7 linked regions of the Homo sapiens genome follow. The protein of the gene in region 6 purifies or fractionates together with the protein of the main gene of each other region. This does not show direct contact. Each region holds a gene or a part of one and is shown on either strand. Other genes may lie near its edges. The genes, in order: TRIP12, ARID3B, TRMT44, ATXN2, EEFSEC, BCAT1 and PRR14L.

Evidence for each region.
Region 1: the proteins of BCAT1 (region 6) and TRIP12 purify together in Homo sapiens (affinity purification with mass spectrometry; 3 studies listed by BioGRID and IntAct, with this or other methods). This does not show direct contact.
Region 2: the proteins of BCAT1 (region 6) and ARID3B purify together in Homo sapiens (affinity purification with mass spectrometry; 2 studies listed by BioGRID and IntAct, with this or other methods). This does not show direct contact.
Region 3: the proteins of BCAT1 (region 6) and TRMT44 purify together in Homo sapiens (affinity purification with mass spectrometry; 2 studies listed by BioGRID and IntAct, with this or other methods). This does not show direct contact.
Region 4: the proteins of BCAT1 (region 6) and ATXN2 purify together in Homo sapiens (affinity purification with mass spectrometry; 2 studies listed by BioGRID and IntAct, with this or other methods). This does not show direct contact.
Region 5: the proteins of BCAT1 (region 6) and EEFSEC fractionate together in Homo sapiens (co-fractionation; one large-scale study listed by BioGRID). This does not show direct contact.
Region 7: the proteins of BCAT1 (region 6) and PRR14L purify together in Homo sapiens (affinity purification with mass spectrometry; 2 studies listed by BioGRID and IntAct, with this or other methods). This does not show direct contact.

Annotation. Positions count from the first base shown.
Region 1 is NC_000002.12:229,915,510-229,920,125, forward strand, and holds part of TRIP12 (E3 ubiquitin-protein ligase TRIP12), read right to left. Parts: intron 1-4,616. UniProt on the Homo sapiens protein: E3 ubiquitin-protein ligase involved in ubiquitin fusion degradation (UFD) pathway and regulation of DNA repair.
Region 2 is NC_000015.10:74,592,638-74,596,459, forward strand, and holds part of ARID3B (AT-rich interactive domain-containing protein 3B), read left to right. Parts: intron 1-497; coding exon of another isoform or gene 498-500; coding exon 501-599; intron 600-2,973; coding exon 2,974-3,137; 3' UTR 3,138-3,822. UniProt on the Homo sapiens protein: Transcription factor which may be involved in neuroblastoma growth and malignant transformation. Favors nuclear targeting of ARID3A.
Region 3 is NC_000004.12:8,450,777-8,454,276, forward strand, and holds part of TRMT44 (probable tRNA (uracil-O(2)-)-methyltransferase), read left to right. Parts: intron 1-1,183; coding exon 1,184-1,252; intron 1,253-2,105; coding exon 2,106-2,213; intron 2,214-3,500. UniProt on the Homo sapiens protein: Probable adenosyl-L-methionine (AdoMet)-dependent tRNA (uracil-O(2)-)-methyltransferase.
Region 4 is NC_000012.12:111,511,820-111,516,435, forward strand, and holds part of ATXN2 (ataxin-2), read right to left. Parts: intron 4,545-4,616; coding exon 4,335-4,544; intron 1,721-4,334; coding exon 1,538-1,720; intron 1-1,537. UniProt on the Homo sapiens protein: Involved in EGFR trafficking, acting as negative regulator of endocytic EGFR internalization at the plasma membrane.
Region 5 is NC_000003.12:128,264,596-128,269,211, reverse strand, and holds part of EEFSEC (selenocysteine-specific elongation factor), read right to left. Parts: intron 4,596-4,616; coding exon 4,431-4,595; intron 1-4,430. UniProt on the Homo sapiens protein: Translation factor required for the incorporation of the rare amino acid selenocysteine encoded by UGA codons. Replaces the eRF1-eRF3-GTP ternary complex for the insertion of selenocysteine directed by the UGA codon.
Region 6 is NC_000012.12:24,809,120-24,813,813, forward strand, and holds the end of BCAT1 (branched-chain-amino-acid aminotransferase, cytosolic), read right to left. Parts: 3' UTR 905-4,694; downstream 1-904.
Region 7 is NC_000022.11:31,742,921-31,747,536, forward strand, and holds part of PRR14L (protein PRR14L), read right to left. Parts: intron 1-4,616.

The sequences.
Region 1 (4,616 bases), on a different chromosome or scaffold from region 6:
TATTTTCACAAGACTTATTCTGTCAACAAACGCTTAATCCCTATCATGGGCCAGCTACTGTGCTAGATGCAGAGATAAAAAGGGACACTACTTGGGATTAGTGTCCTTATAAAAGTTAAAAAAAGGGTGAGGGCTAAAGACTTTAAAGAATTCATAATCAACTAAGGAATACTATTGTATACTAAAAAAAAAAAAAAATTTTTTGAGACAGGGTCTCACGGTCACCCAGGCTGGAGTGCAGTGGCACAATTACAGCTCAGCACAGCTTCCATCTCCCAGGCTCAAGCAATCCTCTCACCTCAGCCTCCCAGGTAGCTGAAGACTACAGGCATGTGCCACCATGCCCAGCTAATTTTTTACTTTTAGTAGCAACAAGGTCTCTACTAAGTTGCTCAGGCTAGTCTCAAACTCCTGGGCTCAAGTGATCCTCCTGCCTCAGCCTCCCAAAGTTCTGGAATTACAGGCATGAGCCACTGGGTCAAATGTTTCAAGTAGGATACCTATGCATATAACAGAGGTATGTTCGAGTTAAAAGAGTTTTAACAAATGAGGCAATGGTCCACAGTACTGTAAACAAGTGGAGAAAGGGCCTTGTGTTCCAATTCATCTGTGGAGCCTAATCTAAATACAGAATGTCTAGCATATAAATGACAACTGACTCTACATTAGGTGGTAATAATCAAATTTTTCAGATTAGGCACTTGAAGCTCACAAAGTACTAAGTTAAATTATTTGCCCAAGGTTACAAAGATGGGAAATGCATAGCCAGGATTGGAACCTAAGTCTTGCCTTCAAATCAGATAATCACTTGAACAGTGCTATTAAGGAAAACACACAGTAGCAGGTATTTTTCACTCTAGACCATTTGAATGACTTTTTAAATCAAGCATAACCATGATAGCCAAGTGTGGAGGTGCCCGTCTGTGATCCCAGTATTTGGGAGGCTGAGGCAGGAGAATCACTTGAACCTGGAAGGTGGAGGTTGCAGTGAGCCGAGATCGCGCCACTGCACTCCAGCCTGGGTGACAAAAGTGAGACTCTGTCTCAACAAACGAACAAGCATAACCATGAAACTGACTACTGCCAATAGCTTCTGCACTCTCAAGACAAAGCAGGTAAGCCTGAATAATGGGTAAGTTCCTTTTTCTTCTATCCAATTCAGTTTAATGAAATCACTGAAATCACAATAAACAACCAAAATCTAAAAGGCCTCAGAGAAAAATGACTGAACAGACTTATTTCAGTCTAGGAAACCTCTTTTTGCCAATAACCTAAAACTATCAGTAAGTTAGGATATTAAAGAACTACATTTTTAAAAAACCCAAGACATTAGCAGAGTTAAATTTTACTTAAAAAAAAAAAAAGAAAAATCAAGGGACAGGTCTAGCATCGGTATACTTATCTATTTATTACAAATAACAGCAAGCATCCATTATGCACAGAGAAACCCAGCAGAGAGGTAGAGAACAACTGCTTTGAGGTTATGTCTTCAAGTCTGTAACACAGCTGCTGAAATGATACACAAGTACCAAAAGAAAATACACAAGTAAAGCTTACATTACACTACACGTTAAGAATTACCAAGCACTGGCCGGGCGCGGTGGCTCACGCCTGTAATCCCAGCACTTTGGGAGTCCAAGGCGGGTGGATCACGAGGTCAGGAAATCAAGACCATCCTGGCTAACAAGGTGAAACCCCATCTCTACTAAAAATACAAAAAAATTAGCTGGGCGTGGTGGCTGGCACCTGTAGTCCCAGCTACTCGGGAGGCTGAGGCAAGAGAATGGCATGAACCCTGGAGGCGGAGCCTGCAGTGAGCCAAGATCGCGCCATTGCACTCCACCCTGGGCAACAGAGCGAGACTCTGTCTCAAAAAAAAAAAAAAAAAAAAAAAAAAAAAAAAAAAAAAATTACCAAGCACTAAGATTATATACAACAATCTAAAAATTATATTTATTCTGTAACATCCACCAGATTTTTACTCTTCCACCCTATCTGGCCTGGACTCTCCTCAGGCTTGGCCTTATTAACTAAAGCTTGGCCTATGAAAAAAGTGGCACAGAATAATCCACTGGCTTAACACTAAAACATGGCAGTGACAGTTGATATCCATCCAGGCACTCTAATGGCACGTTAGTCAGGGGAGATGTGAAGAGGCCCTGATCACTGAACCAACCAAGAGAAAGCATTCTGAAGAATCTGCTGGGGTCAAAGAACCCTTCCAAGCAGGTTGGAGTCCAGTGGCATGATCATAACTATTAACTTCAAATCTCTGGGTTCAAGCAATACTTCCGCTTCAGCCTCCAAAGTTGCCTAGAACTACTGATGCATGCCACCATGCCCAGCTAACTTTTTTTTTCTTTTTTGTGGAGACAGTCTCACTATGTTGCCTGGGCTACAACTCCTAGCCTCAAGCGATCCTCCCACGTCCTCACCTCCAGTGCCACCTCACCCAGACCAATCAGGTTTATTAGTATACCTTCACACATACCACATTGACATGAAATCATCCTTGCCCTCAGGAAGCCTACAGTCCAATCAGGGAAACAAAAGCAACACATGTCAACAAATGCAATACTGTAATGCAGAAACGAAGCAAGTACAGTTAATCAGAAATACAAAGATCACAGGTAGAAACTTGTTCGAGGAAGTGATCTGAAGACATGAGTTGTAAGTTGTTCTTCACATCCTTTATCTTCTATGTTTTTCTGTACATAGTGGGTGCTTGCTTGATTTAAATGAGGGAAAAGTCCATGTCAAACAGGCAATTGCAAGGAATGATTTCAGTGAAGATTAAAAAACCAAGTAGGTTGCTGTTTTGACTTGAGTCCATCAAATAGCAAACAAAAAAATAAAGGAGCAACTGGTATCACATTTGCTCAAAAAGATCCCTACCCATCCACTTAAAAGGGGGGAAAGTTCCCTAGGTTCTGTAAAGAAAACAGTGACCAAGATTCAGAAGCATTATTCCCTAATTGTAATCTCTTACATTAAGTCAATTTCATTAGAGTCACAAACCAGAACAGGTACTTTGTCAATAAAAAACGTAAATGAATTTGAAGTTTCTTTAAACATATTAACAAGTTTTTTCAGTAGAATGTATGGCAAACAAGTATCTGGCATGCTGATACCAAAAAAAGAAGGTAACTTTAAAAAGACAAAAATGAGACCCAAATTCTACTACCAATTAAGCAGCAATTTCAAATTATGAAGTTCTATAACTCTGTACCTTCAACCTAGTTTACATTAATTCTCCCCTGCCCCATGGACCACCACGACTAATGAGAAGCTGTATCTTTTAAAAATGACCTCAAAACAGCTCATGTAATTTTCTAAAATTAATTTATTTAGCATGTTGTTTTTTTTCAGTCATTACATCTGTTGGGTCTCACAACCACCCAGTGAGGTAAAATAGAGATTACCCACTCCCATTTTACAGATAAAATAAATGAAGACCAGATAGGTTAAGTGACTAGCTCAAGGTCACAAAGCTACTAACTGGTAGTGTGTGAATTTCCAAGCCAGTGATGTTTTCCTTGCTAAGATGAAAACCTTAAAATAAAGCAGGATATTAAAACCTTGTCTAGATAACATAAATACAATAATCTTACAAGTTACACTGGGGCCGGCGTGGTGGCTCTCCCCTGCAATCCCAGCACTTTGGGTGACCAAGGCAGGCGGATCACCTGAGAGGTCGGGAGTTCGAGACCAGCCTGGCCAACATGGTGAAACTCTGTCTCTACTAAAAATGCAAAAATTAGCCGGGCGTGGTGGCGCGTGCCTGTAATCTCAGCTACTCAGGAGGCTGAGGCAGGAGAATCGCTTGAACCAGGAGGCAGAGGTTGCATTAAGCCTACACTGCACCACTGCACTCCAGCCTAGGCGACAGAGCAAGATTCTGCTTTAAAAAAAAAAAAAGTTACAATGGGAAAGGAATCATACATGGAATCATACATTACTACAAATTTACTTTGCCAGGTGAAAGTACTGATTTTACCGTGATCTACCTAGCATCCCATTCGTTTTTTAAATGTAACTACTTTAGTTTAGCACCTTCTGGAACCTAACTGCCAAAATTGTTCTCAAACTTTTTGAAAGTAAATGAAAAAAAAAAAGAAAAATAAAGCCTGTTCATAGACTCAAACTAAGTAGTATAAATGTCAGCTGAACAGACTTAAAAACTGCTCACACTCCAGAAAAACTGGGGATTGAATGGAAACAATGATAATCTTAATTACAGTTTTCCAATTCTTATGGATATTGGCACATTCATAGAAAGGCAGACATGTACAAAGCCCACAAACCCCAATCATATTATGTACTCTTAAGCTTAAAATAAAACTCCCTCAATCTCACAAAGATAGTCACAGCAGTTCAACATTTCTGGGGCTGAACACACAGCAGGAAGTGTCAAAAGAAAGAATTAGAAATTCTGTATACTTTAAAACTTACACTTAATATTGATCACTTTGCATGTGGTAAATATGAAAATCAGCCTCAATAAAATCCTCTACAATTTATTGTCTCTAAACCTCTGCTAATTCCATTCCTCAACCCCCCCGGGGTGTAAATGCGACACACACAGGCCTCATATACAGGCCTCTTGCCTTTTTTTC
Region 2 (3,822 bases), on a different chromosome or scaffold from region 6:
TGTGCCAGCACTTGCAGGCTTCCACAAACGCCAGCTGCCTGGGTGGTCATGGAGGGGAGGGGCTGAGGGCGTAGACTCCTCTCTCTGAGGGACTCAGAGTCAAAGGAAAGAAAGGGCAGGTGGGTCCTCAAAGTTGGGGCTGGGTCTCATTGATCTCTGATTTCCTGGGCCTGGTGTATAGTGTAGTTCAGGGTTTGCCCGTCACTTGGAAAGTGCCAGTGCAGAGTGGTGGGGCCGGAGCCGGCCTCCTTGCCTACTGTGATTCCTTTTCTCTGGGAGCAGAGGTAGTTGAGGGGATGAACTGGGTCAGTGGAAAAAGCCAGCAACAGGAGATTGGCGAGCCTGGGATCTCCTGCCATACCCTACACTCAGGAGAAGGTTACATAGATGCCTTTTAACAGCGTGAGGCTTTGACCAGGGGTGGCCAGGCAGCATCAGAGAGGACAACAGGAGTGCTGTGGAAGGCTTGACCAGGCCCACTGTCTCCCTGTCCCCAGCAGAAGACAGAGCAGAGGCCTCGGCTGCAGCACTGAACCTGACCACGAGTAGCATTGGGAGCATTAACATGTCTGTGGACATCGATGGCACCACCTATGCAGGTGAGGCCCTGGAGCTCTGGGGGAGGCCCACGTGGCCGCAGCTAGCCACAGGGCAGCTCTGCGGCTGGCCCTGCCTCTTACCCTCTGTCTGAACACCTCCCACAGTGGCTTCCTTTTTCCTGGTCTCAGAGTTGCAAAGGTCAAGTGGTCCTCTGGACTAGTAGACTGTGGATTGTTAACAGGATGATAGGTCCCTCCCACTTTGGCAGAAACCCTTCACCTAACCCTTTTAGACCAGTGGTTGGCTCGTTAATTGAAGAAGTCAGTCAGTGTCCCACAATCCCCAGGTCTTCTCATGCACAGCCTTTCTCTGACTGTAATTCAGCTCTTCTCTTCCTTTTGCAGACTGAGACACAGGCAAAGGAACCCCAGTATAGGAGAATCAGCTTACATTGTTAAGCTCCCTGCCCCCCAGTCTTTTACAGTTATCTTTTCCTAAACCTAATTTGGCAACAGTGTTTTGTTGGTTGGTTGATTTCGCACCTTTACAGAGTCTTTCTAAGGGTTTAACTTAGTATTCATGACTGGGCACGGTGGCTGATGCCTGTAATCCTTGCACTTTGGGAGGCTGAGGCAAGAGGACCACTTGAGCCCAGGAGTTTGAGACCAGCCTGAGCAACATAGCAAAATCCCAAATCTACAAAATACAAAAAAAAATAGCCAGGCATGGTGGTGCACACCTGTGGTCCCAGCTACTTGGGAGGCTGAGGCCAGGAGGATCACTTGAGCCCAGGAGGTCGAGGCTGCAGTAAGCCGTGATTGTACCACTGCATTCCAGCCTGAGTGACAAAGCAAGACCTTGTCTCAATTAAAAAAAAAAAAAACAAAACTTAATATTCATAAAAACAGCAGTCCTTTTCCCATTCCCATTTCATTGGTTTACGGACGAGCTTGGGAACAAGCCCACCTGACTCTTGTTAAGCACAGCATTGCTGGGCGCGGTGGCTCACGCCTGTAATCCCAGCATTTTGGGAGGCCAAGGCGGGTGGATCACGAAGTCAGGATATCGAGACCATCCTGGCTAACACAGTGAAACCCCGTCTCTACTAAAAATACAAAAAGTTAGCCAGGCGTGGGGGCGGGTGCCTGTAGTCCCAGCTACTCGGGAGGCTGAGGCAGGAGAATGGCGTGAACCTGGGAGGCAGAGCTTGCAGTGAGCTGAGATCGCGCCACTGCACTCCAGCCTGGGCGACAGAGTGAGACTCCGTCTCAAAAAAAAAAAGCACAGTATTATGAGTGGGGGCCACCAGGCCTGGCCCAGGGCATCACCCACCTGTTTTACCAAGGGCCCAAGGGCATGCGGAGTGTCAGCCAGCCTGGCAAGGTGTCTCGTGGAGACAGGCGAAAGCCCTACAACTGCACCTTCTATCACAACTGGGAGTGTTTCCTCAGGGCCTACTCCCATTCTAAGGGCCACACTCCCTCAGAGCACCGCCCTGCAGGCCTCCTGGGAGCATGCTCTGGATCTCTGCTGGGCCACTCACTTCAGAGAGAGGACAGAGTGTAGAGGAGCAGTGGTGCCAAGTGGGCTCACCAGTCATGCTATGTCTGCAGACTCTGCTCAGAGGTCTCTACCTGTCACAGGAGGCCCCTGGAGGAGGTGGGGCCTGGTGCCCTTTGCCTCTTCATTGTGCTGTGGTTTGGGAGGGTTGGGGGTTGGAATTAGGTCCATGGAGAAAGCAGGGAAGTAGGAATTCAAGGCCTGGATCTTGATATCCTTTTGTCCTCTGTCAAGGAGAAAGGAGAAGGTAACTCCTTCCCTCTCAGAATGAGGAAGGGTCAGAAGTTGAAGGCTCCTCAAACCCCTGACAAGAAGGGAGCCAGTCACCCACCCCACCTGGCTCTGTCACCCAGGCTGGAGTGCATTGGTGCGGTCATAGCTCACTGCAGCTTCAACCTCCTGGGCTCAAGTGATCCTCCTGCCTCAGCCCCCTGAGTAGCTGGGACTACCCATGCCCAGCTAATTTTAAAAAAAATTTTTATAGAGACAAGGCTCTTGCTGTATTGCCCAGTCTGGTCTCAAACTCCTGGCCTTGAGCTATTCTCCTGCCTCACCCTCCCAAAGTGCTGGGATTATAGTTGTGAGCCACCACACCTGGCCTTGGTGTTCCTCTTTGTGTACCCTGGGTACACCTTGTCTCAGAGCATTTATGACATTTTAGCAAAATTACTCTGTCGACCTATCTGTCCCCCTCCCCAGCCCATCAGCACTTCAAGGCAGGACAGCATTTGGATCTTCTCCCATCACCCCCTAGCACAGTGTCTACAGCGGAGTCAGGCACAGGCTAGGCCAGCGGTGAATACTTACTGAAAGGAGCTGGCCCTCCCCTTCGCTCTTCCTCTGCCCACACTTGCTTCTCTTCCACCCACCAAGGTGTGCTGTTTGCCCAGAAGCCTGTGGTCCACCTCATCACGGGGTCTGCTCCCCAGAGCCTCGGCAGCAGCGCCAGCAGCAGCAGCAGCTCTCACTGTTCACCAAGTCCTACCTCATCCCGGGGCACCCCCAGCGCAGAGCCCTCCACCAGCTGGTCCCTCTGATGGGCAGGACCCAGCTTCCCACTTGCCACTCTCCTGTCGAGAGTGAAGGAAGTTGATGCACAGAATTTACCTCATCTCACAGAGCCCACGTCGACGAGCACCATTTGGCCAGACATTGAGAGTTTGGACGTGTCCGTCTGTCCAGGCTCCATTCAGGTCCTGCTGTACTCTGGGGGCAGGGAGAGGCTAGAGGGGCAGGACAGACAGCGTTGTCCAATCAGGGATTGTCCTGGAGAACTGGGTGGGGGTCTGTGGGTGTCCAGCTTCCTCCAGGGTTCCCCAGCCACCTCCCAGCTCAGGGCACAGTGTATCGACAATCTGTCAGCCGACGCAGGGCTGGAGGCCCTCCATTTCCCTCCCCTTTTAATTTATTTCCCTGACCCTGCCTTCTGCCATGACCCCAGGGCCACTAGTCTCTTCCCCTGTTTTTAAGTCCCATGTGGGGCTGCCAGGAGCCAAGAGCATGCCTTCATGCCCTTCTCTGCAGAGCATGGGATGGGGCCCTTCCAGCCCACTTTGCCTACTGTTAGGTTCCTGGGGTACGGGTCCCTCAAACACAAGTCTTGAATCAGTCCTCAGGGCCCCAGATCCCCCTTCTAATAGTCTGAAGGAAGAGGCTGTGAGGGCAGTTCAGGGCCAGGGCCCACAGGGCATCTGCTGATGGGAAGGCAGAGCCTCGGGGCTG
Region 3 (3,500 bases), on a different chromosome or scaffold from region 6:
ATTTGTCATTTCCATGTTTTTTTTTTTTTTTTTTTTTTTGAGACAGGCTCTCACTCTGTCGCCTAGGCTGGGGTGCAGTGGTGCAATCTTGGCTCACTGGAGACTCAACCTCCCGGGCTCAAGCGATTCTCCCTAGTAGCTGGGACCACAGGCAGATGCTACCATGCCTGGCTAATTTTTTGTATTTTTTGTAGAGACAAAGTTTTGCCATGTTTCCCAGGGCTCAAGTGTTCTGCCTGCTTTGGCCTCCTAAAGTGCTTGGATTACAGGCTTGAGCCACTGCCCGGCTTCCATGTATTTTTTTAATCAGTCACGTCTTGCTCTGTAACAAAAGCACCCCAAAGGTCACAGGCTTAAAGCTGTGACCTTTCATTATTGCTGAAGCACCTGTGGGTCCCCGGGGTTGGCTGACTGAGGCTGGGCTCCCTCCCACATCCTGGCCTCGTGGTCCTTTGCCATCTTGTTAGCTATTTGGTACCGTCCAGAAGGTACTTTTTATGTTTTTCCAGCTTTTGAAATTGTTTCTAGTGGGATGGTTCATCTGTATTGTCTAAGGCGCTGTGACTGGAAATAGAAATTTCAACTTTTAACATTGGCCATTGGTTTTTCCTGTTTTGCCTAATGCCAGTTCTGAACATGACTAATTTTAATAATGAGAGCTCATGTTTGCACAGCTAGTGCTTTACAGTTTTCAGAGCACCTTGATTATCCTGTGTGTTAGTTGAGGCATGGCTTTATCCCTGTTTGACAGGTAGGGCGACAGCAGCCACTGATGGACCAGGGGCTGGAGCACTGGTCTCCTAGTTTGTGGCTCGCGGCTCTCCCTGCCCTAGTTTCACTCCCACGCCTAGTTTCCTTGTTTGTTGCCCTTATCTGCATAGACAATGAGCACAGTGTAGCTAAGTGTTTCCTCTGTGTCCACTGCCTCAGCTAAATGCCTTAGGTACATTCTGTTGATTGTGAAATCTTGCTTTGGATTGGATTGTTCTTGGCATGCCTTGTTTCTTTATGTAAATCTTTTATTGTAAGAAACCAGTTGTGAATTCCTGCCTTTGAGCTTATGTTTCCTATTTTAGTGTACGATTAGTCCAGTTTGATTTATGCTTTATAGGGATACTTAAAGTATTGGGAAATGGTGGTGGGGAAACCGAACAATTTATGTTTGCTCTTGAAACTGTTTTAGGTGTGGCCTGAAGTCACTGATCCTGAGAAGTTCGTGTATGAAGATGTGGCTATCGCAGCATACCTGCTGGTAAGGGTGTAAGCGACCTCAGCTTCTCTGGAGTGGGTGGAGTTTGCTACAGGCAGATGTTCCCTGTAGTGAAGGACATTTTCCAAATCCATAACTGCCGGTGCTCACAATTCTGCTGGCCAAGGTTGGTTTCTCGTGTAATGGTTTGACTTCATGTGGTCCTTTTGATGCGTATACAACAAGTTTGGGTTGAAACTTGACCTCGGGTTCCAACTTGACCTGCAGGCGGAACTGTACGTCCACACTCAGCAGTCATCGTGGAGGCACCGGCTGGCACAGGGAAGCACTGAGGAACACGTGTCTTCCGGCCCTGGCCTAGAACCTTCTAGCCCTTTCCTCAGCTGGCTCGCTAGCTGGCTACATTTGGACATGCCCTCTGATTTAATCATCTTGGTTTACTTATCTATAAGAATGTTTAGAGTAGGCTGGGTTTGGTGGCTCAAGCCTGTAATTCCCAGCACTTCGGGAGGCCGAGGCGGGCAGATCACTTGAGGTCAGGAGTTTGAGACCAGCCTGGCCAACATGGTGAAACCCTGTCTCTACTAAAAATACAAAATTAGCCAGGCGTGGTGGCAGGAGCCCATAGTTCCAGCTACTGGGGAGGCTGAGGCAGGAGAATTGCTTGAACCCAGGAGGCGGAGGTTGCAGTGACCAGAGATTGCATCATTGCACTCTAGCCTGGGCGGCAAGAGCAACACTCCATCTCAAAAAAAGAAAAAAAAAAAAGAATGTTTAGTGTAGATGATTTCAAGTTTCCTTTCACTCAGAGTTTTCTTTGACCAGTTTGTGTCTAAATTATTCTTGCGTAGAGTGAATTACCACCTGACTTTGTTTTGTTTTTCTCTTCACTTAGATTCTATGGGAAGAAGAAAGGGCTGAGAGGAGACTAACTGCCAGGCAGTCCTTTGTGGACCTGGGATGTGGAAATGGCCTCCTGGTCCACATCCTGAGCAGTGAGGGGGTAAGGCCCGGCTCCATCACCTTTTCTGGTAACTTGTCCAGAGTTTCCTCAAGTCAGGCACAGGGTTCACTGACATCTTTTTCTGCTGATACAGCCTGGATTTGGAGTCAGCCAGCTATCAGAGTAGGTAGAGACTTATAAATTTCTGTTAATCTGATAAACAAACAGCTCCTAAAACAAGGGAAACGTGGTGATCTCATTGGACCTAAGAGGAAGTCCCCGGGCCCCGGCATGGACCTATAAAATGACAGGCTTTGGGTAGCATGGATGTTTTTTTGCTGTCAGATTTTTCTTTTGAAACCCACCATCTCAAGGAGCTGGAGGGAGATAAAAAGCAAGGCAGGTTCTGCACTTGAGAAGCTTCAGGCCAGGCACGGGGCTCACGCCTGCAATCCTAACACTTGGGTGGCCGAGGCGGGTGGATCACTTGAGCCCGGGAGTTTGAGACCAGCCTGGGCAACATAGTGAAACCCCATCTCTGCAAAAAAAAGAAAAACAAATAAGAGAAGCTTCAGTTCTGGCTCGGACGGCCAGTCATGTATACACAGACAACAGTATGGAACAGTGTGGTGTGTGGTACTGGGTTTTGCCCTTATTTTCTGGATGTTCAGCTGATGCAGTGAAAGCACTCTTGGGCTGAGAGCGGCACCTGCCCAGGTAGCACGGTCAGTAGGGGTGGGTGTCTTGTGCCTGGAACTTCCTGCCAGCAACTTATACCCCTCCTGGTGCGTCCAGCGCGTCAGGTGCCATTACCCCATGATATGATGGCCAGCTTAGCCACTTCCTGCTAGGGGGCAACAGCTGGAACCTGCAGCCCAATATTGATGGTTCCAAACTGATTATCTTCCTGCTATGCTGTACTGTACAGTACTGTACTGATAGGCTGCGCATATTTGTCTACACCTGTAAGAGCTTGAAATGGTTGTTACAATGCCCTTTTTCAAGTGTGTTATTAAAGAATGAGTTTCTAATCATAATACCTATAAGCTGGTTGTGGGGGTGGTAGTGTATCAGGTGGCAGCTTGGTAGCTGGTACCTGGAGACAGCTGGGAGGTGTCTCGTGCACCCCTCCTCTTCTGCAGGCTTGGCAGAAATAAGTTTGCCCTATGAGAGCCAATGAGTGTGGCCAAGGTGCAAGAAGAGCCAGCAGCTGACCTTGACTGAGAGCAGAGAATTGGCTCACGTTCTCAGGTGTGCTCCCTGGGGCACTGGCCCTGGAAATGTTCCCACACTAAAGGCCACTGTGGTCACTCAACTCCATGTCCCATCTTGAACTCCATGTCCCAT
Region 4 (4,616 bases), about 87 Mb from region 6:
ACCAAGGAAGAAAATAAAAAGTACAAAGGAATTTAGGATACAATTACATGAATGTGCATCACATGAAGCTGAGCAGAAATGTATAGCAACTAAAAACAGATTTAACACAGCTGAGTTTTGTTTTTGTTTCCTTAAGCTTGAAGATCTTGTTTCTTTTTTCTTTTTTTTGAGATAGAGTTTCGCTCTTGTCACCCAGACTGGAGTGCAATGGTGTGATCTTGGCTCACTGCAACCTTCACCTCCTGGGTTCAAATGATTCTCCTGCCTCAGCCTCTCAAATAGCCACCACACTCAGCTAATTTTGTATTTTTAGTAGAGATGGGGTTTCATCATGTTGGTCAGGCCAGTCTTGAACTCCTGACCTCAAGTGATCCACCCACCTCAGCCTCCCAAAGTGCTGGGATTACAGGCATGAGCCACAGCAACTGGCCGATCTTGTTTCTTTTAAAGGTTCTCTGGACTGATTAAAAGAGAAAAAGTGTTTTTTTTGTTTGTTTGTTTGTTTGTTTTAAGTATTCTTTGTAAGCTCTTGCTTACCACAGTTATGGGAACAAAGCACTAAGGACTGATTGGCAAAGTAGCAAAAGCAGTCAGCCTTATTGTAAAATCATGTCAACGTCTAGTTTTTAAACTTTTTTTTTTTTTTTTTTTTTGAGACAGAGTCTTGCTCTGTTGCCCATGCTGGAGTGCAATGGCGTGATCTCAGCTAACTGCAAGCTCCGCTTCCCGAGTTCATGCCATTCTCCTGCCTCAGCCTCCCAAGTAGCTGGGACTACAGGCACCCGCCACCATGCCCGGCTAATTTTTTTTGTACTTTTAGTAGGGACGGGGTTTCACCGTGTTAGCCAGGATGGTCTCGATCTCCTGACCTTGTGATCCGCCCACCTCAGCCTCCCAAAGTGCTGGGATTACAGGCGTGAGCCACCACACCCAGCCTAATTTTTATACTTTTATAGCTGCTGTCAGCATATTCCTTATGCTAATCACAAATAAAACTTGGACCCTTTATTTGTATTTGATATTCCTTATTATGGAAATATAGTTGGGAATTAGTGCCATATACAGATGCTATAGAAACACACTACAATGTAAGCCAAAAATAAATGTTTATAGAATGTACTGATAAACAAAGCTGCTAAAAAGATAAGGAAATACGGTCCCTCCAAATAGTGTTACATACTGTGTTTGCCTCATATTAGAGAGGTACTTTACAAAACTTTATAGTTTTACAATATATCTGTATTTATGAACCTTATAGGAATCTCATCACAATCCCATAATGTAGACTAGGCAAGAATTATTAACACTTTACTCACTGCGAAATCTCAACTTCAGAATGAGTGTCTGACTTGCTTTAATATATGATGAATAAGTGGTAGAGCCCAGAATAAAAATATGGGTTTCCCAATTCCTGGTGATTCTACTATTTTTAACATATACATACTTACACTTCCTCAAACAGAGTTGTAGCTCAGCCCTCTTTATATCTAGTGTAATGACAAAATGAGTACCATCATTATGCCCAAGTGTTACCTACCCCCACTGACCACTGATGACCACGTTCCCCCCGAGGGACTGGTCCTTGCTACTGGAGGAGTAGCTGCTTCACTGGGTGGGTTGTGGGATACAAATTCTAGGCCACTGGATATGGAACCCCTCCCAGCAGAAACTCTGTGATTTCGAGGATGTCGCTGGGCCTTTGGGGACATCCTTGGAGGCCCTAAGGAAGAAACAGTGAACATCACATAAATTCCATGATATTCATCAGTACTACTTTTCTGCTAAATACACCCATTCACACACACATGCACACACACTCACTCACTCTACAGTTTTTCCTTGGTTAAAAATAGAAAAAAAAAAAACACCATACATATTTTTTTGGCCATACTAATTCTTTCAGAATTATTTTGTGGAATGCCACAAAGTTTTATAAATAAATTTTATTATTTCCCTTTATTTTTAAAGAAAGGGAGGGATGAAGTTGGTGGTAAGAAATCAACAATAAGATGTCAACTCTTAAAAGAACTGTAGCAATCTGTTTCAACTATGTCTTATTTGTAAAGAAATATGTTACTAGAAATTATGACTACATGATAAAATATTTTTAACTTTCCATATATTTTACCTTTCCCTGACCCGAATTTTCTACATTACTTCTAAAATTAGAAAAAAAAAATTTAAACAGAAGACTATTAATCCCTATACACCCCGATACCACTAAAACATATGTACATACCCTTCTTAAATTTCTCTAAAATTTTAGTTTATTTATCTCTTCTATCATGATCATCAATTTTAAAACTCGGCTTAAAACAGTAAGCAGTAACCTGTAAGCAGTTTCTTAGGCTTAGCAGGCTGTGAGCTGAAAATTCTATTAAAGGGATGACTTGTATTAGTCTATTAATAGATGACCAAAATAACTGACATTTGGGGGAGAAATCAGCACTATATGAATTGTCAAAATTCTACATTATTGATTCTGCCATGCCACTAGTGACTACTCTTTCTAAATCAGTCTACTGTGCATTAGACCAATCTATCAGGTAAAAGAGTGGACAGAATGGCCCTCATCAGAGAAGCCTACTGGTGTTAACACCAAGCGAAAACTTCCCTAATGTCAAAGCCAAATCTCCTCACTCTCTCACCCGGCTGCCAAACTCTTTAGAACTTCAAATTAATATATGTTGCCAATAGAATTATTATTTTATTTTTATTTTTATAAGACAGAGTCTGTCTCTGTCGCCCAGGCTGGAGTGCAGTGGTACGATCTCAACTCACTGCAACCTCTGCCTCCCAGGTTCAAGTGATTCTCCTGCCTCAGCCTCCCAAGTAGCTGGGTATTTTTAGTAGAGACGAGGTTTCACCATGTTGGCCAGGCTGGTCTCAAACTCCTGACCTCAAGTGATCCACCTGCCTCAGCCTCCCAAAGTGCTGAGATTACAGGCGTTAGCCACCATGCCTGGCTTCCAACAGGAATTTAAACACGAACATGATCTTTAGAAGAATGCTAATGTTATACACTATAATTTTCAAATGGAAATATTCAACATCTCTGAATGACACAGAAAGTATATTTCTGTGTGAAGTTAATACATGAGCAGTCCTTAAATCTTAATGTAATAAAGATGTTCACAGTCATTAATGATCATGTTTTATTTAATATATTCTCATTAAATAAACATCGCTTACTCAAATGATGGACTACAAGAAAAATATCAACAGAATTTTGCATTTAGTGACCACTATTAAGGCCCTTTTGAGCAAAGAAGTCACCTTGAAAATCAGTGGAACTTGCTCTTCAAGGTTAGATGCTTCAGTCAAAGTCATATGACCTGCCTGCTTAGATGGTAACAATTTATTTAAAAGTAGCCAATACAGTTTTCTCCAGGGAAGCAGGAGAAACACATTTTGTGCGGAAAACTTTATTAGTCCCAACATAAGCAATATTAACTAATTTTAATGAACAAATCAGATTAAAATTTTAACACAAATATTCAGAACTAGTATCAAAAGGACATTATGATTCAGAAAACAGGTTTTTAATATATGGGTGGCATTTAAATTAGAATGTTACCTTTCTACAACATATCCCTGTATTTGATATGTGGCAATGATGGATTTAGCGCCAAATACTGAATAAGAATTACAAGATTTTATTCTTATTTTTGACGAGGAAAGAAATAGCTAAATATTCAAATTCATATGTCGTTTTTATCAATTTTATCTCAGATCAAGGACTTCTTCCAGATTAAAGCAGCCTTTCACTATGTAAGATTGCAAAGCTAACTTTAAAAAAATTACTCAGTTAAATTTAGAATTCTTCTGGCATTCTAAAAATCAACTACTTTAATCTAAGGGCAGACACGCAAAGTCAGCTACATGGGCTGTCGCTCTCAAAAAAGACCCAGAAAACACCATCCCTGCTTATGGCCAATAGGAAGGTTCACTAGGACCTTGGCCAAAGAGCTGTAAAATGAACCTAAGTTCAAGACTGGCTGAAGAAAGTTCATTTGTTTAACTACTGTATACAGTGCAAATAAGGAGGGGGAAGGCTGTGGGGCAGACCCTTCTGGGGCTGTAAAGAAGCATAATTATCAGGCAGAGATAAACCCCCTTTTTAACAACAATTCAAGAGAGTTTATAGCTTCACACATTTATCAAATTTCTCTCTAATGAACAAAAGGTTAATAGAAATAGTTTTAATAAACTAAAGTTAAAACACAGAAATTATAGGTTATTAAATAATGAAGAGGAAACTATTTTGTAATTATAAACTCACATAGGAGTTAAACAAAGACAAACAAAAACATGAACAAATTGTGGTATTGTACCTTCTGAAGACATGCGTTTAGGCATAGTAGAGACAGGAGCTGGAGAACCATGAGCAGAGGGGTGAGACGGGGGTCTGGATGGCCGCGAGGGGGGCCTGGAGGGCGGCCGTGTAGGGGTGGCTGCCCGAGGTGGAAGAGAGTTGGGACCTGACTGGTAGCGAGAAGGTGGGCGAGAGGAAGGAGATGGGCAAGGCGATGGCCAGGGAACACCTGACAGAACAAATGATATGAAGGAAAGTATAAAAACTAAAGAAAAAAATGAGGGAAAAAAGTAAACAGAAA
Region 5 (4,616 bases), on a different chromosome or scaffold from region 6:
TGGAGCTGGATGAATGACTTCAAGTCCCAGCTCTGCTGTCCAGTTGCTTAAGTTTCCCGGGTCTAGGTTCTCTCACTTGTGGGATGGGCATGCCAGGAAAGAAAGGAACGGGCAGTGCTGGCCATCAGTATGCAATGGTTCTGACATGTTGCCCCCAGAAGCCCAAGATGGTGAGCAGGGGCAGCGACTCCCTGCGAGGAAGCCAAAGCTCAGAGTTAAGGGACCTGACAGGATCAGAAAGAACTTAAGGCTTTTTCTGATTTCAGTCCTTTCCATGCAAAATTCATAAGTTTCTTAGGGCTGCCATAACAAATTACCACAAATTTGATATCTTAAAACAACAAAATATTTCTTCTCTCACAGTTCTGGAGCCAGAAGTCCAAATCGACGTGTCAGCAGGGATGGTTCCCATGGAGGCACCGAGGCAGACTCATCTCCATGCCTCTCTCCTGGCTTCTGGGGGCTTCCGGCAACCATGGGCACCCCTTGGCTTGGAACAACAGAGCTCCAATCTCTGCCTTAGTCTTTATATGGACTTCTCTCTGTGACTCTCCGTGTCTTCTCCTTGTCTGTCTCTTATAAGGACACTGGTCATTGGACCTAAGGCCCACCCTAATCCAGGATGATTTCTTCTTAAGATCCTTACCTTAATTACATCTGCAAGACCCTTATTCCAAAATGGTCATATTCTGAGGTTCTGGTAGACATATTTTGGGGGACCATAATTTAACCTACTATAGTCTACCCTCTGGTACCCAAAATTTACATCCATCCCACATGCAAAATACATTCACCTCTTCAAACATCCCCCAAACTCTCAGTCCATTAGGCCATTAACTCTAAGTCCAAAATCTCATCTAAATTATCATCAGCTCAAAAAGTTCCTAATGTCATCATGTAAGTCACCTAATCAGGTAGGGGTGAGACTCTAGATATGGTCTATCCTGGGGCAAAATGCCTCTCCATCTGTGGACCTAGAAAACAATTTACCTACTTCTAACATTCCAAAAGGGAGACGGTGGAAAAAATACAAGGTTCATTGGTCCCAAGCAAGTTTAAAACACAGCAGGGCAAATTCCATGAGGTTTCAATACCTGAGACTGACCTCTGTGGCTACTCCCCTAGCCTCACTTCTGTTTCCAGAGCCCTGCTCTCAGAGTCATTCTTCCTTTTTTAGTTTTTGAAGGATAACATGTGTTTGTAGCTGAGTTGTTCTATCAGCCTGTTTCTTGTCTGTAGAATCCCAGAAGTCTGACAGCTTTTTATTCATTTGTCAAGTCTCTCTCCCTTTCAGTCCAGTGTTCTTGCTGGTATAACATTCTCAAAACCCTTGAGGGTCTCTTATATACATCAAGGGGTCCATGCCATTAGCCAAGACGGCTCTCCGCATAACTTTGCTATAGAAGTCCATCTCTATTTCTGGTTGCTGCTAAGTTGCTTGGATCTGTGAGTCACACACCTCCTCTCTTCAACAGAAGGTTGTCCAGGCTCACCTTTGGCCTTCTCTCCAAGGTATGCTTTCTCAGCAGTGAATTTCCTAATCTTAACATCCTTTGCAATCTAGAGGGACTGAGAACCTCCGAAATCATCAAGCGCTGATTTCTGTTTGCTAACAGTTCCTTCCTCAATTCATTCCTTTTCCCTCATGTTTTACTATAAGCATCAATGGAGAAACAAGGCAGCATCTTTCACAGTTTGCTTAGAAATCTCCTTAACCAAATGTCTCAGTACATTGCTTACAAGTTCTGCTTTTCCTGACTAGTAAATTAGATCATCAGGCAGTAGACACCAAAAGTGTTAAAAAGTAGGCTGGGGAAAAACAGGTGCACAAAAGTAAAAGGAGAATTAAATTTGTATCTGCCAAGCACCTGCCATGTGCCCAAGTACTAAAGATCAGTAACTGGCATCCTGATAGGCAAGTTCCACCTTTATAAGGACAAAGAGGGTGGCCAAAAAGCTCAGAACAGGACCCCACTCGAACATCCCTGCCTCCTTACCACTACTGACTTCTCTGCCTCAGCCCTTCTCCATGCCCTCAGCCCTAACATTGCAGCCACTGACTCTTATCAAAAACCTTTTTCTCCCTCTAGAACCTCAGGTACCCCCAATTCAAAGTCTACCCCACCCCCCAGAGAGCCCTCTTTTGACACCTCTTTCATACTCCCAGGTCCTCTCCCAAGCTGCAAGCATGTCTTCTCCCAGAGTGGAAGGGATGCCAGGTCAGAGTGGCCCCCAGAGGTCTGACTTAGGAAGCACAGAGACTGGAAAGAAATTTAGTACTGATTCATTTTCTGTTCTAGCAAAGAATCTGCAAACAGTCACCAAAGTAATCTTAATTTTGTTAAATATAAACTGAATCTACTTTTACACTTTTGTGCTTTATTTTTGAAGATTTGCACTTTTAGTCCCTGGCTTAAACTAGATTTTATTCAAGTGGTCTTTTTCTGGGACCAATGGTCTTCAGAGGAGGACATGACAGCAGGTAAAGGAGGGGACTGTGACTCACAGTGTCTGGGGGACATCCTAACACCCAGCTCTGGCCAGGTTCCAGGGCTCCTTGGATATGGTGGGGCCCTGCCATTCGACTCCTCCCACTAGATCCAAGGAGCTCTGGAACCTGGCCAGAGCCAAGTCCTTTCTTTTGTTTTGTCCTTTCTGGTCAGGAGACTCTTCCCTAATACCCCTGGCCCCTGCAGAAGGAAGTAATAGACACACTGCTGTAAAATGAGCTGGGGGGTTGAAACCTCAGGTTGCCTTCATTTGGGGGAACCCTGTTCATGCCTGCCCTCCATGAAATGCCCCTTCCCTATATCCAACCATGCTGCTCTAGATGAGGGATGGCACACGCAAGACATGGGTGCCAGTAGGGACCCTCTCCACTTCCCTCACTCAGGCCAGGTGCTGCTATCATGGCCCTCTCACCCAGCGGGTGATGTGGTTCATTTTATGTGTCAACTTAGCTGGGCCACAGTGCTCCAACTTTATTCTGAGTGTTTCTGTGAAGGTGTTTTCAGATGAGATTAACATTTAAATTGGTGGATGTTGAGTAAAGCAGATGACCCCTATAATGTAGGTGGGCTTCATCCAATCAGTTGAAGGCCTTAAGAACAAAAGGATTAACCTCCTCAGAGAAGAGGGGATTCTGCCAGCAAATGGCCTTCAAGCTGCAGCTCCTCCCTAGGCCTCAATCCTGCCAGCCTACCCTGTAGATTTTGGACTTGCCAGGTTTTATAATAGTATAAGCAAATTCCTTAAAAAACGTATCTATTTATCTATCTGCATCTAATACTAGGTGCATTAGTTGGTGTTCTCCAGCAAAACAAAACTAATAGGAGATACAGATATCTACATATTTACATCTATGTATCTTTACCTATGTATCTATAGATACCTAGATATCTGTATCTCCCATTGGTTCTGTTTCTCCGGAGAACCTTAACCAACACACCTAGTGAGCCAGACAACCTTAAAATGCCTCAATACAGCCTCCAGGTAGCCATTCCCAATTAACATGCAAATTGAAATCATGCACATCCAAGCCTCTCTAGCAGCTAGCTGAGTCCACAGGGCTGAGCACCTCCACTTCCCTGCACTGTAGGCTCCTTCAAGGATTAGAGAACTGCCCTGGACCCCAGCATTCCAGGCAAGGTCTCACATGAATTCTAAGTAGCATGTGTTCCCTACCTTTTATTCTTGTTGAAGGGGAGGGCAGTCAATGAGGCTGTAAGTTTCTCTTGTCGCATAAAGTAAAACTATTAAAAATGCCTTCTAAATAAGGGGAATATCAAGGCACTATCTTTTAAATCAGAGCCAGGCCATCATAGTAGAAGGAGGGGTGATGGGAAGGCACCAACCACTCATCCTTCTCACAGGTCTTCAGAAGAATAATGCGGCATCTGTCGATGGCCACCAGGAGTGCAAAACCAACCTGGATTTCTTCCAGATTCTGTGATTCTGAGCATCATAAGATTCACGTCATGTTTAATTTGAAATTACTGTGGTTAAGAAAAAGGTACCCAGAAATAACTCCACACATACTTGCCACCCTGACGTACAGCGTCCAGAAAGGGAGGTTTCCCCTCCAGCAGCCCCACTTGTTAACCATGTGATCTCAAGCCCACCTCACCTTCTGGAGCCTCAGTTTCTTTATCTACACAGAAGACCTACTTGGGAACACCTCCTTGAGGCACATCATAGGCCTCCAATAAACAGGCGCTATGAGAATTAGGGAGAGCAGCAGTCCTAGAATCTGAGTTGAAAGACTTGGAGCCGGGCGGGGCCAGGCAGCCAGAGGGGAGGTGGGGCGGAGCAGGCAGTGGGAGTCCCAGGGCAGGCACAGCAGCAGGCTCAGCAGCTGAACAGACAAAGGGACAGTCCCCCTCCCTTGCTGCCAGCGAGGAGGCCAGAAGGGAAGACAAGGTAAGACTGACCTTGAGGGCAGGGATCTCCACACTGTCACCGAGGCTGATGGAGCCTGAAAGGATGGTCCCTGTCATCACAGTGCCTTGGCCTTTGATGGAGAAACAGTGGTCCACAGACATGAGGAACGGTCCCGAGGGATCTCTCGTTGGGATGGAAATCTGGGACGTCAGGAGCTAGAAAAGAGAAACTGGTGC
Region 6 (4,694 bases):
CCTCATGTGTTTATCCTTTGAGTTACAAATAATCCAATTATTCTCTAAGTTATTTCAAAATGTACAATTAGGTTATTATTGACTATAGTAACTTTGTTGTGATATCAAATAGGAGGTCTTATTCATTCTTTCTATTTTTTTGTACTCATTAACCATTCCCACTTCCTCTGTCCTCCCCACCAACATTACCCTTCCCAGCCTCTTGTAACCATTCTACGCTCTATCTCCATGAGTTCAATAGTTCTTTTAGATCCCACAAATAAGTGAGAACATGCAAAGTTTGTCTTTCTGTGCCTGGCTTATTTCACTTAGCATAATGACCTCCAGTTCCATTCAAGTTGTTGCAAATGACAGGATCTCATTCTTTTTCCTGGCTGAATAGTACTCCATTGTGTACATGTACCACATTTTCTTCATCCATTCATCTATTGATGGACACTTAGGTTGCTTCCAAATCATAGCTATTGTAAACAGTGCTGTAACAAAAATAGAATTGCAGATATCTTTTTGATGTAATGAGTTCCTTTCTTTTGGATGTATACCTAGCAGTGGGATTGCTGGATCATATCATACCTCAATGTTTAGTTTTCTGAGGAACCTCCAAACTGTTCTCCATAGTGGTTGTATGAATTTACATTCCCAACAACAGTGTAAGAGGGTTCCCTTTTCTCTGCACCCTTACCAGCATTTGTTATTACCTGCATTTTGGATATAGGCCATTTTAACTGGGGTGAAGTGATATCTCATTGCAGGTTTGATTGCACATATCTAATGACCAATGATGTTGAGCAACTTTTGGTCATGTAACTATCTTTAAAACAAATGCAGCTTGATCCCTTTTTAATGTAATCAGTTCAGCTTCAAAAACTGGTATATTGCATTTGGGATACAAACAGTCAACATGAATCTTCCAACTCAATTTATTTGTTTCAGCTCACGAACTTTTCAGAATCCCTAGTGGCTTAGTGACAAAGACCTTTGGAGAGAATGATCATGGGTTTTGATCAACACTGTCGCGATTGCATACAGACATAGCTAGAGAACAAGCCCAGTGATTATTCTACAGACCATAGGAAGCATCTACACCTCAGCTGTCGGCCGTTTGGTTACAGAAATGCGATCCTGCAAGTTGTCACCACTATACATAAAGTCAGGCTATGATAGCATATTTCACTTAAAAATAAATTATCACAATATAAGGCACATATGTATATGGAATCAGATTCATGATTTGAAAAATATGCTTAAATCACACTGAATCAGCTTAGCAGAAAAATAATTATAAAATTTGAAATATCCCCTTTTCTTTTTGTTTTGTACTAAATCAATGTAGAAAACACACTTTCTACCCTGAAGGAAACTGCTGTCTTATCTGATAAATTATATAAGCTCCAGTAAATGTATGTCATCACCCTCAGGAATGACAGGTCTCTCTTTCTCACGCTTGTGGGAATTGAGCGTTGACACTGTAAGAACACTTGACTAATAACCTTTGCCTAGACCTTCCAAACTCTGCGCGTAACTTCTTGAGAGATCTGAATAAAGGCCAATATTTTCACAGGTTGACAGGGTCTGGAGAAGTGGGTCACCGAGCACTCTGACATTTTTAAGTTCAGTTTACAGTAACTCTTTGCAAAACTTCAGGTTTTGCTGTACTTCAAATCATTTGGGCAAATTATAAGAAAATGAATACAAAATGTGTGACCCTTGGGTAATTCTGCACTTGGCTTTGTTCTCCCTTGGTGCTTTTGAGGACAATTTCTGCAAGGCCTGGTTTGGCTAAAAGGGACACTTCATTGAAGATCTCTAGGCCTTTTACTTTTTAAAGTGTCTTTTATTCTAAAGCTAGTTAACCACATATAGAAGTATGGTGTTTATCAGTGATGTAGATCCATTATGACAATGAATGGGAAGAGGTAATCTACTCCCCCCATTCTGTGCAAATCTCAAACGACAAAGCTAAGTTTTACTACAGATAAATCCATAACCAGGGGAAGGAAGAATTTTTAAATGCCCATTTTTTTCTTGTCCAAATGTTTGAAAAAGAAACATATTGAATCTCTATCCAGTGGTGTGGTTTCTGGTCTTTCTGGTGTGCTCAATTCTCTCTGTGTCATTTTGGTGTAAAAATACTATCCTACATTTACTTCCCTTGACCAGAAACCTTGAGACATCATAAAAATGTTAATTTAGCATTATTACTTCATGCATTCAACAATGCTGATTTCATGAAACCACACAAACAGGATTCTTTTGTTTTATTGATAACAGAAACTGTGCATAATTACAGATTTGATGAGGAATCTGCAAATAATAAAGAATGTGTCTATTGCCAGCAAAATACAATTATTCCATGCCCTCTCAACATACAAATATAGAGTTCTTCACACCAGATGGCTCTGGTGTAACAAAGCCATTTTAGATGTTTAATTGTGCTTCTACAAAACCTTCAGAGCATGAGGTAGTTTCCTTTACCTACGATATTTTCCACATTTCCATTATTACACTTTTAGTGAGCTAAAATCCTTTTAACATAGCCTGCGGATGATCTTTCACAAAAGCCAAGCCTCATTTACAAAGGGTTTATTTCTTTCTACTCAATTTTTCTTAAAAAGAATTTCAAGAATCACTACACAGCTAAGATATCTGAGACTTGCAATGGCTGGAGTCTATCAGTACAATAGTAATTGCAATCAGATTCAGATACAAGAGAACAGGTTCTAACAATTTCATAATTAAGTTGATATTCTGTTTCTATCTATAAGCTCACATTTAAAAACTACTTCCTCGAACTACTTATTTTTCCTCAGCCACAAGTAAGCGCAAATCCTTAAAAACAGTGGGTTGAGCCCCAGCTCCATGTATTAGGTAGCTAGGTATATTGTGGGATTATTCCTTGTTAAGTCACCCCAGGAAACATTTGCAGAATTTAGAAATGCATCCAGATTTGTGAGTTTATTTTTAAGACCTGACTAAAAATCTGCACTCTTCAAAAACTTATTGATGAAGTACAAATTGAGGCAGAAATTTACATTCCTTTCTTAACCCTGAGAATGAGTTTAATGATCATAGGAAACTAGTTTGAGGAAACTGCAATGTGTTATTGCACATTTTAGTTAAAAACTAATAGTCAACCAATTTCCAATTCAGTAAACCTTCCACCTATCAGGATAGGAGATAGTAAATAGTATCTCTAAGGGAAAAAAGTCACAATCTACTTCTTGTCTAAACTTATTATTTTATTTGGCCTCAAGAAGCTTCATGGATCTTAGAATAAAATGGTTGAAGAAATGACACAATAGATATTACTTACTATGCTATTATAAAATAAAGCCTAGTCCAAGTTGATAATAATCTAAAGTGGTTTCTATGTAACACAACCTTCAGATTATAACCTCAATAGTGTGACCTAATTCTAATATCTGATGAAGTGTTTGCTATATTTAGTCACTACCTAGTAGCATTATTTGTATTTAGCAACTACATTGAAAGCTGAAGAAGATCTCAATGCTTGACAGAATAAGGAAAAAGCTCCTTTGGATAACACAAAAATATGTTTTGTTTTTTTCCCCTCCTCTATCATTCCTTTCTTCTCTACCTCCACTTATTCTTCCTCTGATATCATCTTTCATTAAATTTTTCTCCAGAATCCAATAGTGAGCAACAGGAAACCTAGCCATTGTGATAGTGGATATGTAGAGAAAAGCCAGTGAAACTATATTTTAATTCATTCTTACACCACAGCCTACATCAATTCTTACCATCCCAACAGTAGATTACATAAACTGAACATCATGCAACTCAAGTTATACGTCTTGTTGATTGGGTCTATTGTAGAATGAAAAATACACTTTCAGACAGAATAAGATGACTTAAAACTTCAATACTTGTATCCAGCAGATTTGAAAGGGCACTTCAAATTTGTTCTTCTTTTTCTCCCCCATCACCCCCATTTCAATTTTTAAGACTGATTTCATGCCTTTATCATTTTGAAGCAAATATGTTTATATATGTCTGACCCCAGGAAATTATTTACCCACAAACACTACTATAACTACTATACTCTGTTGATATGTTTCATTATCAACCTCCCCAAATTAAACATCTGACAAGTCTTTTATATATGTATGCTGAAGAGAAAAAATAAATCACTTTCTTCCACCTTTGAATCTTTAAAAGGGGTTTGTGGTAATGATAAAAAATTTATCTCTTTCCACACATTTAAGACCTCATACTGTGCAAAATCATGGTTATATGAAAGTTATTTTCTGAATAGCTGGATCCATCACCTTCAAGCTAATACTTTAAACAGCATGGTTCATAATAGATATTTTCTAGAAAAATTCACTCTAGGATCATTTTCTTTGTTTATTTCCATCTAATCTGGCTTTGCTGAGAAAATCAGCAAGGATGCTGTAATCTGTGGTGTTAATTTATTAGGTGCACCATGATAACTCAACATTGTTTGAAAAGAATTCAGTCAACACATGTACTAGGTTGGTAGTAAATAGTAAAGAAAGAGAAGGTAATTCACACCAGATGAGGAATGGTGTGAACACTAACCTAAACACCAACCTTATTAAGTAGTTTTGCACTAGAAGAAAGGAAGGAATTAAAGAAGGATAAAGTTGCTTTAAAAATGAGATAAACTATTCATTGATTTCTTGATAAGAGATGTGTTCTGGCCTTCTTTG
Region 7 (4,616 bases), on a different chromosome or scaffold from region 6:
AATGAACCTTGAAGACATTATGCTAAGTGAAAGAAGCCAGTCACAGAGATCACATATTACAAGATCCCCTGTATAGGAATGTCTAGACTAGGCAAATCTTACTATGAACCCAGCTACTAAGAGGGGAGGATCACGCCCATGGGAGGCCAAGGTGGGAGGATCATGAGGTCAGGAGTTCGAGACCATCCTGGGTAACACGGTGACACCCCGTCTCTACTAAAAATACAAAAAATCAGCTGGGCATGGTGGCACGCGCCTGTAGTCCCAGCTGCTCTGGAGGCTGAGGCAGGAGAATCACTTGAACCTGGGAGGCAGAGGGTGCAGTGAGCCGAGATTGCGCCACTGCACTCCAGACTGGGAGACAAAACCGAAAGTCTGTCCAAAAAAAAGGCTGGGATTCTTGGAGAAATTGGGAGTGACAGCTGAGGGACACAGAGTTTCTTTCTTGAGTAATAAAAATGTTCTAAAGTCAATTATGGTGATGGCTGTAGAACTCTGTGACTATACCAAAAACCACTGACTGGTACAATTTAAATCAGTCAATTGTATGGCATATGAATTAAATCTTAAAAAAATGATTTCTTTTAAAAAAGAACCTGGCCGGGAGCGGTGGCTCAAGCCTGTAATCTCAGCACTTTGGGAGGCCAAGGTGGGTGGATCACTTGAGGTCAGGAGTTCCAGACCAGAATGGCCAACATGGTGAAACCCTGTCTCTACTAAAAATCCAAAAAATTAGCTGGGCATGTTGGCGAACGCCTGTAATCCCAGCTACTTGGGAGGCTGAGGCAGGAGAATCGCTTGAACCTGGAAGGCGGAGGCTGCAGTGACCTGAGATGGGGCCACTGCACTCCAGACTGGGTGACACAGTGAGACCCTGCCTCGAAAAAAAAAAAAAAGAACCTGACCTTGACCCCAACCTTTCTTTCAATTCCTAACCTACATTTCACTTGCAAGAATGGCACCCCCAAAACTTACCAAGTTTAAAACAGAATTCATTCAATCTATTGAATAACTGAGTCTTTGAGTCTTTCTACACGCAAACAGCTTTGAGAAACAGGTATAAATAAGACGCCCTCAGCAAACTTACATGCTCATTCATTAAAAAAAAAAAAAAAAAGACAGGGTCTTGCTGTGTCGCCCAGGCTGGAGTGTGGTGGTGCGATCATAGCTCACTATAACCTTGAACTCCTTCTGCCTCAGCATGCCTGGTTAATTTTTTTTTTTTTTTTGGGATGGAGTTTCGCTCTTGTTGCCCAGGCTGGAGTGCAACAGTGCGATCTTAGCTCACCACAATCTCCACCTCCCAGGTTCAAGAGATTCTCCCGCCCCAGCCTCCTGAGTAGCTGGGATTACAGGCATTTGCCACCACACCCAGCTAATTTTGTATTTTTTAATAGAGATGGGGTTTCTCTATGTTGGTCAGGCTGATCTCAAACTCCCAACCTCAGGTGATCAGTCCGCCTTGGTCTCCCAAAGTGCTGGGATTACAGGCGTGAGCCACTATGCCCGGCCTACTTTTTTATTTTTGTAGATAATTTTGTATGTCTTGTTATGTTGCCCAGGCTGGTCTCAAACTCCTGGGTTCAAGCAATCCTCCCACCTCAGCCTCCCAAAAGTGCTGGAATTACAAGCGTGAGCCACTGTGACTAGCCACATGCTGATTCTTAATCCTGTTGCTTCTCAGAAAAGGCACCATCAATATTCTAGAGCTTAGATTTGAATCCCCAGCCATAACCATATCTGACTTCCCCTCACCATTCAATCAGCACTTGCAGCCTGTGGACTCAACTCCCTGCAGTGTTTCTAGTAAATCATATTCATTTCCATCCCCACAGTTCTAGCTCAACATTTGTTCCAAATGTTGCTCCACATACGGTCATACACAAATACAGGTTTACTAAACAGATCTTTATCATAAACAGTGAATACTGATAATCACATAAAATGGTTCACCTCTTGATACTCTTGTTTGGACCAAATTCTAAGAATTTCAACCTGTAAAACAACTAGGCACATTGGCTAGAGAACCAAAACAGACACCCCCTCCTTTTTCTCCTGGACTAATTCTGGGTCCTCAAATTTCTGAACAGAATTGCAGATACGTTACCAAGAACAGCTGGAACCCTAAGAGGTGAGGTGATATTAAATGCAAGCCTAGAGTGGCAGGTTAAACATGGCCGGGTGCTTTGGCTCACGCCTGTAATCCCAGCACTTTGGGAGGACAAGGCAGGCGGATCACGAGGTCAGGAGATCGAGACCATCCTGGCTAACACAGTGAAACCCTGTCTCTACTAAAAATACAAAAAATTAGCCGGGTGTGGTGAGGGGCGCCTGTAGTCCCAGCTACTCGGGAGGCTGAGGCAGGAGAATGGCATGAACCTGGGAGGCAGAGTTTGCAGTGAGCGGAGATTGTGCCACTGCACTCCAGCCTGGGCGACAGAGCGAGACTCCGTCTCAAAAAATAAAAAATAAAAAATAAAAATAAACTTATTTTCAGCTCAGTAGCTCACACCATCTATCAAAATATTGGTAATGCCACAAGACTGCAGTGACAGAACCCGATTTTGAGAAGACATTCAAGTTCTTTAAATTCCTGAATGCAATGGAGCAATCTAAAAGGATGATGTAGAAATACATCTCTACAGCCGGGCGTGGTGGCTCATGCCTGTAATACCAGCACTTTGGGAGGCTGAGGCGGGTAGATCACTTGAGGTCAGGAGTTCAAGACCAGCCTGGCCAACATGGTGAAACCCTATCTCTACTAAAAAATGCAAAAATTAGCTGGGCGTGGTGGCAGGAGCCTGTAATCTCAGCTACTTGGGAGGCTAAGGCACGAGAATCGCTTGAACCTGGGAGGCAGAGGTTGCAGCGAGCAGAGATCGCGCCATTGCACTTCAGCCTGGGTGAGAGGGAGACTCAGTTTAAAAAAAAAAAAAAAAAAATATATATATATATATAAGCCAAGTATCACAGTGTTACCTTGGACAATAGGATCACCAATGACTTATCTGTATGTTGAACTTTTTTTTTTGGAGATAGGGTCTCTGTGGCCCAGGCTGGAATGCAGTGGCTTGATCACAGCTCTCTATAACTTCAAACTCTGGACTCAAGCAATCCTCCTGCCTCAGCCTCCTAAGCAGCCAGGACTACAGGCGCGAGGCAGTGAACCCAGCAAATATTTTTATTTCTTGTAGAGACAAGGTCTCACTACATTGCACAGGCTGGTCTTGAGCTCCTGGCCTCAAGTGATCCTCCCACCTCGGCCTCCCAGAGTGAGCTGCTGCACCCAGCCTTGTACTTATTTTTCAAAACAGTGAGTATATATTACATATGTTAAAATGTTGTCTAACCATTATTTCTCAAGATCTAAACACACAGCAATAAAAACAGCTGATAAGTGTATTTTCAGTATTTTTTATCAGTATGTTTTATCAGTATTTTTCCAGCTGTCAGCTCTCTGCCTTAACCACCAATGCTTTTACATTAAAGTGTTAAATGTGAAGTAAAAGGGAAGAGTGAGTAACACATGCTTATAAAATGTAGACAGGGATTTACAGCTTAATCTTTGCTAATGACTTATAATCAACCTATTGGGTGAGGATACCAGATAATTACCTAGTTTGAGGTATAAGCAAAAAATAAACCATAGATTTATGAACGACTTTTGACAGCTGCTACTGGCTTGTCGTCTTTATCACAACACAAATAAGTACTATATTAGAATGTGTAGGGAATGGATTTATTCCCAAAAACTGACTAATACTTACAGGAAGTATGAAAATTATTATTCCAGTAAAAGTAGAAATTCTTTTACGTTGAGGACAATTATTTCATGTTCTTTCTTTGCAAACGCACAAATACTTCTCCCAGCAGTCTTTTTTTTTTTTTTTTTTTGAGACGGAGTCTCACTCTGTTGCTCAGGCTGGAGCGCAGTGGCGCGATCTTGGCTCACTGCAAGCTCTGCCTCCCGGGTTCATGCCATTCTCCTGCCTCAGCCTCCCAAGTAGCTGGGACTACAGGTGCCCGCCACCACGCCTGGCTAATTTTTTTATTTTTTTTATTTTTAGTAGAGACGGGGTTTCACTGAGTTAGCCAGGATGGTCTTGATCTCCTGACCTTGTGATCCGCCCGCCTCGGCCTCCCAAAGTGCTGGGATTACAGGTGTGAGCCACCGCGCCTGACCCTCTCCCAGGAGTCTTTTTTTTTTGAGACAGAGTTTCACTCTTGTTTCCCAGGCTGGAGTGCAACAGCATGATCTCGGCTCACCGCAACCTCTGCCTCCCAGGTTCAAGCGATTCTCCTGCCTCAGCCTTCCTAGTAGCTGGGATTACAGGCATGTGCCACCATGCCCACCTAATTTGTTTTGTATTTTTAGTAAAGATGGAGTTTCTCCATGTTGGTCAGGCTGGTCTCAAACTCCCGACCTCAGGTGATCCACCCGCCTCGGCCTCCCAAAGTGCTGGGATTAGAGGCATGAGCCACCGCGCCTGGCCTCTCCCAGCAGTCTTAACTGCTGGTCTCTTCATCAGGAAGCCAGGGTCCCTTATCCTGCTCTCACATACTAGATGCAGAGTCTTGAGTGTGTTAAGTGAAAGTTAAGTGAACTTTCCCGGGCT